2 linked regions of the Homo sapiens genome follow. The protein of the gene in region 1 interacts with the protein of each later gene in a pairwise test. Each region holds a gene or a part of one and is shown on either strand. Other genes may lie near its edges.

What was found. Proteins that work in one complex are often made in the same cells at the same time.
Region 2: the proteins of FOXO3 (region 1) and RBL1 interact in binary tests that used the Homo sapiens proteins (3 or more experiments, as listed by UniProt).

The regions. Positions count from the first base shown.
Region 1 is NC_000006.12:108,675,785-108,679,437, reverse strand, and holds part of FOXO3 (forkhead box protein O3), read right to left. Parts: intron 1-3,653. UniProt on the Homo sapiens protein: Transcriptional activator that recognizes and binds to the DNA sequence 5'-[AG]TAAA[TC]A-3' and regulates different processes, such as apoptosis and autophagy.
Region 2 is NC_000020.11:37,064,998-37,068,650, reverse strand, and holds part of RBL1 (retinoblastoma-like protein 1), read left to right. Parts: intron 1-464; coding exon 465-665; intron 666-1,353; coding exon 1,354-1,418; intron 1,419-1,529; coding exon 1,530-1,658; intron 1,659-1,766; coding exon 1,767-1,927; intron 1,928-3,177; coding exon 3,178-3,227; intron 3,228-3,653. UniProt on the Homo sapiens protein: Key regulator of entry into cell division. Directly involved in heterochromatin formation by maintaining overall chromatin structure and, in particular, that of constitutive heterochromatin by stabilizing histone methylation.

The sequences.
Region 1 (3,653 bases):
TTTCCATGCTAAAACAAGGAGAGCCGCTCATCCTAAGTAGATGAGTTATACTTTTCTGGTTCTTCCCTACTGGCTATGTGGACTAACTGAATTGCTTACCACCCTTTTCCACGAATACCCCAACACCAGTGGAGATGAAATGGCCACTTTCTATAAAGGCCTTAATAAGTCTGCAGTGCTGGGTGTGGGTAATCTTGACTCCCCTATTCCCCACCATAAAAAGAGTAAGTAATTACTAAGCGGGCCATCTTAAGAATTTAAGAAATGGGCCGGGCGCAGTGGCTCACGCCTGTAATCCCAGCACTTTCGAAGGCTGAGGAGGGCAGATCACGAGGTCAGGAGATCGAGACCATCCTGGCTAACATGGTGAAACCCCGTCTCTACTAAAAATACAAAAAATTAGCCGGGCGCGGTGGCGGGCACCTGTAGTCCCAGCTACTCGGGAGGCTGAGGCAGGAGAATGGCGTGAACCTGAGAGGCAGAGCTTGCAGTGAGCCAAGATCGCACCACTGCACTCCAGCCTGAGCGACAGCGAGACTCCGTCTCAAAAAAAAAAAAAAAAAAAAAAGAATTTAAGAAATGGGGTCTTGCTATGTTGCCCAGGCTGGACTTGAACTCCTGGGCTCAAGAGATCCTTCCGTCTCAGCCTCCTGAGTAGCTAGGACTACAGGCACGCCAATGCACCTGGCTTAGGAATTTGATTTTTGTATTACAAATTTGGAGAAAAAAAATTACATAACACATATATGGACAAGAAATCCCCCATAAAACACCCCATTAACAATCAACAACATTATTATTATTCTGCCTCCAATTATTATTTTGTCTTCAATGGAAAGGCACAAAAAAGGTGCTCTTAGAGCATCTGAATTTATACAAGTCTTATCAGATGTCATGTGACCACTGGGCCCAGAAAAGTTAAGGGATTAAAAAAAAAAAAAAAAGTATATTCATAGAGCTGTCTTAATAGCAAAAGGACGTGACATGACAGACCTCCAGACATAAGATTCTTTGTTTATGGAGATAGTGTTGGCAGTTATGGTAGTAAAGAAACGGCTCTAGGCCAAGAAATGGATAGAAAAGTGGTAGTGAAACAACATGAACTCGTGCTTTTCTCTCCAGACAAGGTAAATAAGTAATGAAAAAAGCATCAAAAAACTCACACACAAAATCACATTATATACATCTGCTTCTCCCACCTTTAGAGGTTGTACCGTAGGGTCATCAGGAATTCTCATGAGTGTACTGTAACTTCAATCTCTTCTGTGACTCTGCACTTGCTGGCAATCTTACCTTTCACTCTCAATGTTTGCAAACACAGCAGGACTTAGTATTTACAATGTTACATGCCCATGGTCATATTTACTTATCCTTGTTAAAGCTCCAAATTGAAGAATTTAGGTTGTTTTACTGGAGGTAGGGACAATAAAGTATAAAAAGAAGCCTCTTTCTTCTTCCTGTCTATCCCTAGGTTTTAGTTTCCCTGGCTGATGGTTTTTTGGGGCATTCTTTGCTTTGTAAAGCTACTAGATAATATTACCTTGGACTATAAAATAATGGCTTGTTGATTCTAGAGGGAGTAAAAGCTGAAGTAAATACTAGATCTCAGCATCTGTGAAGACCGTAGCTTGCTAAAGTCAGTGCTATTCTAACTACTCTACCTTGCCCTGCAAAGTATGAATGATTAGATAGCGTTTCACAGGCACAGTCCTCTGGAAGAGGATTTGGTTTTTTCCCCTCACAATAACACTTAATAAACCACCATCCAACATCACTATGTGATCAGTCATCAGGGGACTCCCATCCCCAAGTCCCCATCCTGACTTACTGTAAGCGCCGAGGGAGAAGCTGTAAAGTACTACCTAATTCAGATCTCTCTCCAGTTCCCTTGGGTATTAATTATGCAGCCACAGAAGCCAGTGCATAATGGGAAGGTGACACACTTCATTCCCCAAGTACAGAGACAGGGAGTGTGGCTTGCTCCAATGTGGGCTGGGCCAACACAGCAGGAAAGAGGACAGAGGACACCCATGAGCCCCTAACAGAGCACAATTTTGAGCAGAACAGGCCATCACCCCAAAGCCAGGAGTAGGAGGCCCATGTGGGACAGTCTAAAGCACTAACCAACCACAGTCCCCAGGCTTAATATCCATTCCTTCATCAAAAGGCCCCAATCTTCAGAGAACTCCATTATTAAAAACGAGATGTGTGAATCACCACTTTCCCTTTCTGCAGATTGGGGTTGGGGTCACCTGTGAAGCTATGTTCTACAGCTTCCGCTGAGGTCCCCCAGGCAATGCCCTCCCAGGGAGGCCTGCTCAGGAAACCACCTTGGTGCTTATAGGCTGAATTGGTAGAGGATTTGGCCCAGGTATAGAGGCAACTCTTGCAGAGGACAAATTTAATACAGAAACTCCCACTCCAGAGAACAGAAAGGCCTTTGGTTTCCTCTGTGACAGAAGGAAAACAGATTGTAAAACACTGAAAATATAGAAGATAAATGTTGAACAGAAATACAATTAACCTTCTCAGAGGAACACCAGAATCACCATTTACAATGAAAACTGGGGTAATAAAAATAATCAAAAGGAAAGCAGCAGCTCATCTGTCTTAGATTTTTAATGGCTCTCCTGTGGCTCAATGTTTGTACATGCTTATCTGATTCAATCAAGGACAGAAAGAGTAGAGGGAGCATATTAAGTGATGAAACCCAGCTACTGAGCTGGGAAAGTCAATGATACTTAGCTTGGGTACAAGTTTCATGGGTTTTAAGAAAGCTCATGTCATTCTTAAATAGTTTAAAGTATGACATTTTAGTTATACGGTTATTTAGTTAACCGTGAGATTTATGTGTATGTGTCGATGCTCTTCTAGTTTAAAAACACATCGGATTAAGGGGCCAGGCATGGCGGCTCATGCCTGTAGTCTCAGCACTTTGGGAGGCTGAGGGGGGCGGTCCCTTGAGACCAGGAGTTGGAGACCACCCTGGGCAACATGGCAAAACCCCGTCCCTACCAAAAATACAAAAACTAGTCTCATAACCCGGTCTCAAAATAAATAAATAAAATTTTAAAATGCTGTAAGAAAACACATCAGATTAAGCAAAACTTTTGAAAAGAAAATGAAGCTACAGCTGATGGAATTGTAGTTTACTCTGCAAGTACTAGGCAATATGCCAATTAACAATAAATACAAAGATGCTGTTCTGTCCCATCAGTGACTTTCATTAATAAGGGAAGACGCCCTCTCTCCCCTCCCTGCCCAATAAACAAGTTTGAAATCAATTGCTGATACAAAGAAAATGAAATGGGGAGACCAAATAAATGATGAGGTCCATTCTAAAAATATCTACGGATGCTGTCATCTGGTCTCTGGTGAGAGCAAGTCCCTCTATAATCTTGGCATCTGTAGGGAAGACAAGTTTCTGCCTAATTATCACCATAAATCACATGATACTCTAAGAAAGGGAAATGCCTCCAAAAACTACACAAAACATAACAACCCCAATCAACTTTAATCTGGGAATAAAACATAAATGTTCCTACTGCTGTCCTCCCACAACTTAATCCACTGTGAAACATTTTTCAGTAGTGTTTTTATCTTCTGGGCAGAGAAGAACAGAACAGGACCCTAATACTAAATAGGACATGGAA
Region 2 (3,653 bases), on another chromosome or scaffold:
TAGGTGCTCTCGCTCCCTCCATAGCAGTAAACTCTATGTGATGACCACTAATTAATAACCTGTATTCCCCTGGTGATCCTGGGAACGAAAGTGATTTCATAGTGAGGACTTTTTTTTTTTAATTAAATTTAGGCTTGAGGGATGGTGTTTGTTCTTTGTTCATGTAAGACAGTGTCTTGCTTTGTCACCCGGGCTGGAGTACATGATTGAGGCTAACTGCAGTCTCGACATCCTGGGCTCAAGCAATTCTCCCACCTCAGCCTCCCAAGTACCTGGGGCTACAGGCACATGCCACCACACCCAGCTAATTTTTTAAATTTTTGTAGAGATGGGGTCTTAACTATGTTGCCTGGGAAATCTGGCTTTTTAATAAAGAGTCTTAGTCATGAATAGAATATTTCCTTTCAATCCATTATTTAAATGAATTTTAAAGGTGCCTTTTTTCTCCTCCTTTTTTTTTTTAGTTTAATACAATTTTTTAGTAAAATGAAGAAATGGATGGACATGTCAAATCTACCACAAGAATTTCGTGAACGTATAGAAAGGCTAGAGAGAAATTTTGAGGTGTCTACTGTAATATTCAAAAAATATGAGCCAATTTTTTTAGATATATTTCAAAATCCATATGAAGAACCACCAAAGTTACCACGAAGCCGGAAGCAGAGGTGAGCCCTTAATCCTTATATAATTGACATAAAGATTATGATACAAACTAAGAGAATATACTTTTTTGAAAGTCTGTTTTTTATGAAAAGTATTCCTGCAAAGAACTTAATTATTTTCTTTTTAAATCCATGTACAATTATCCATATTTGGAAATTCAGGATAATACTTTTACTTATTTTTCTTTCTGTTGTTGTTTTTTTTTTTTTTTTTTTTTTTTTGAGGAGTCTCATTCTGTTGCCCAGGCTGGAGTGCAGTGTCCTGATCTCGGCTCACTGCAACCTCTGTCTCCCAGGTTCAAGCAATTCTCCTACCTTAGCCTCCTGAGTAGCTGGGATCACAGGTGTGCACCACCCCGTCTGGCTCATTTTTTGTATTTTTAGTAGAGACCAGGTCTCACCGTGTTGGCCAAGGTGGTCTCGAACTCCTAACCTCAGGTGATCTACCCACCTCGGCCTCCCAGAGTGCTGGGATTACAGGCATGAGCCACCACACCCAGCCCTATGTTCTGATTATTTTATGCAGGTTGGAAAGGCTTACTTAAGTCCATTTCATAAATAATAGATTACTTTTCTTCATGAATGGAATTTCATGTGTAATTTGATCTATTTGATATTTACATTTACTATTTCAGTTTACATGATATTTAGCGAGCTAGTCAGACAAAAAGTAATTTTTTTCCCTTTTTAGGAGGATTCCTTGCAGTGTTAAGGATCTGTTTAATTTCTGTTGGACACTTTTTGTTTATACTAAGGGTAAGATGACACTTTCAGTGGTCTTACATTTCTACTCTGGGAACTTGGTGCTATTTGACATGAGAGGTTTCTGGTTTTTGTGTCTTTTTTTTTTTTTTTTCCCTTATAAAGGTAATTTTCGGATGATTGGGGATGACTTAGTAAACTCTTATCATTTACTTCTATGCTGCTTGGATCTGATTTTTGCCAATGCGATTATGTGCCCAAATAGACAAGACTTGCTAAATCCATCATTTAAAGGTAAGACCTTTTATTTATTTTTGAAAACTGATTATCAGTTTTTGGAAAAAGATTTTTAAAAGTTGACTATTTTTTTTTCCCTCTGCCCTTCCTACACTGTCAAACTAGGTTTACCATCTGATTTTCATACTGCTGACTTTACGGCTTCTGAAGAGCCACCCTGCATCATTGCTGTACTGTGTGAACTGCATGATGGACTTCTCGTAGAAGCAAAAGGAATAAAGGAGCACTACTTTAAGCCATATATTTCAAAACTCTTTGACAGGAAGGTACTGTACTTATAATTAGATGACTGAGATGTTTACAGATCACCAGTAATGTGAAAAGAAAAAAATGTTTTAAGCAAGTTCTCAGCATTATAGAACTTAGGGTCAGGATTCCCAGGCTTTAGCCTCTACTGTGATTCAGAATTTCCTTATGATCTTGTGTGATGTGAGAAACAGAGCTGTTGAAAAATGTGACCAACTATATGTACTGTTGGGTAAATGTACTGTCAGAGGCAACCGTAGGAGGTACTGATAAAGAATTGTAAAGAATAGAACATCAGAGTAGGGCTGACAAATAATTAGGAAAAACAGGAGGTCAGAATAAGCTGACTAATTTACTGCCACAATTTGAATAACTGCTGACTGTTGACTAAAAGTAGGATGATGTATAACAACCACAGTTTTAATTCCATGTAAATCGAGCAGAAAATCCATGATAGTTTTGTAGCCACTTGTAGGCTATCTGTGTGCATTCTGGACATTGTCTCCTTGGTAATTAACTTAGCTATTTCTACATTTATGAATTGGCTTGTTCCTTTGGGTTTCAATTTCTTATTTCCCCAACGTCGAGCCATTAAATGTAGTTAAGCCTCAAGATTTCTCTTTGGTAAAAGGAGGGGTTTGGATTATGGATCCCACTTTTCAAATATTATGAGATTTTTCTTTAAGCATAAATTCTTCCCTTACTGGTTTCTTCTTCTTTTATACAAATTTTTGTATTCAGTCTTGTGTTCCTCAGATATCTATATTATGGCCCATTGTCTGTATGCTAAACATCTCTAGCAAAGTAAACTTTTTTTAAAGGATCCCAGGGACTGGGCGCGGTGGCTCACGCCTGTAATCCCAACACTTTGGGAGGCCAAGGCAGGTGGATTGCTTGAGCCCAAGAGTTCCAGACGAACCTGAGCAACATGGCAAAACCTTGTCTCTACAAACAATACAAAAATTAGTTGGGCATGGTGGTGCACAACTGTAGTCCCAGCTACTTGGCACGCTGAGGCTGCAGTGAGCCATGATTGTACCACTGCACTGCAGCCCTGGTGACAGAACAAAACCCTGTCTCAAAAAAAAAAAAAAGTTAAAAAAAAAAGTTATTTGCATGCTAAATAGTTTATCCTAGTCTGAAAGAAATATTTAATAATTCTGTTTTGTGTGTGTGTTATAACAATATGGAAATTTAGATAAATTTCACGTTTGTGTGTGTATTAATATGCTTAATTATATGGTGTCCCAAAATAATTTTTTGTTCACAGATATTAAAAGGAGAATGCCTCCTGGACCTTTCAAGTTTTACTGATAATAGGTAAATATCTAGTACTAATGGTGCCTGGCTTATCACAAGCTGTCATATTTGTTGATTTGTTGAAATTTGTTAAGCATAACAGTATATCAAAGTAAGACCTCCAAATTCAAGTTCTCTCTGCTTTAGTGGCATTGAATGTTTATTATCACTAAGACTTGTTGGCTTTAAATACATTTATTTTAAGAAATCAAGGCCAGGCACGGTGGCCCACACCTGTAAACCCATCACTTTGGAAGGCCAAGGCAGGCAGATTGCTTGAGCTCAGAAGGTTGGAGACCAGCCTGGGCAACATGGTGAAACCCTGTCTCTACAAAAAATACAAAAATCAGCCAGACGTAGTGGTGTGAGCCTGTGGTCCCAGCTACTTGGGAGGTTGAGGTTGGAGGATCGTTTGAATCTGGGAGGTTGTGGTTGCAGTGAGCCGTG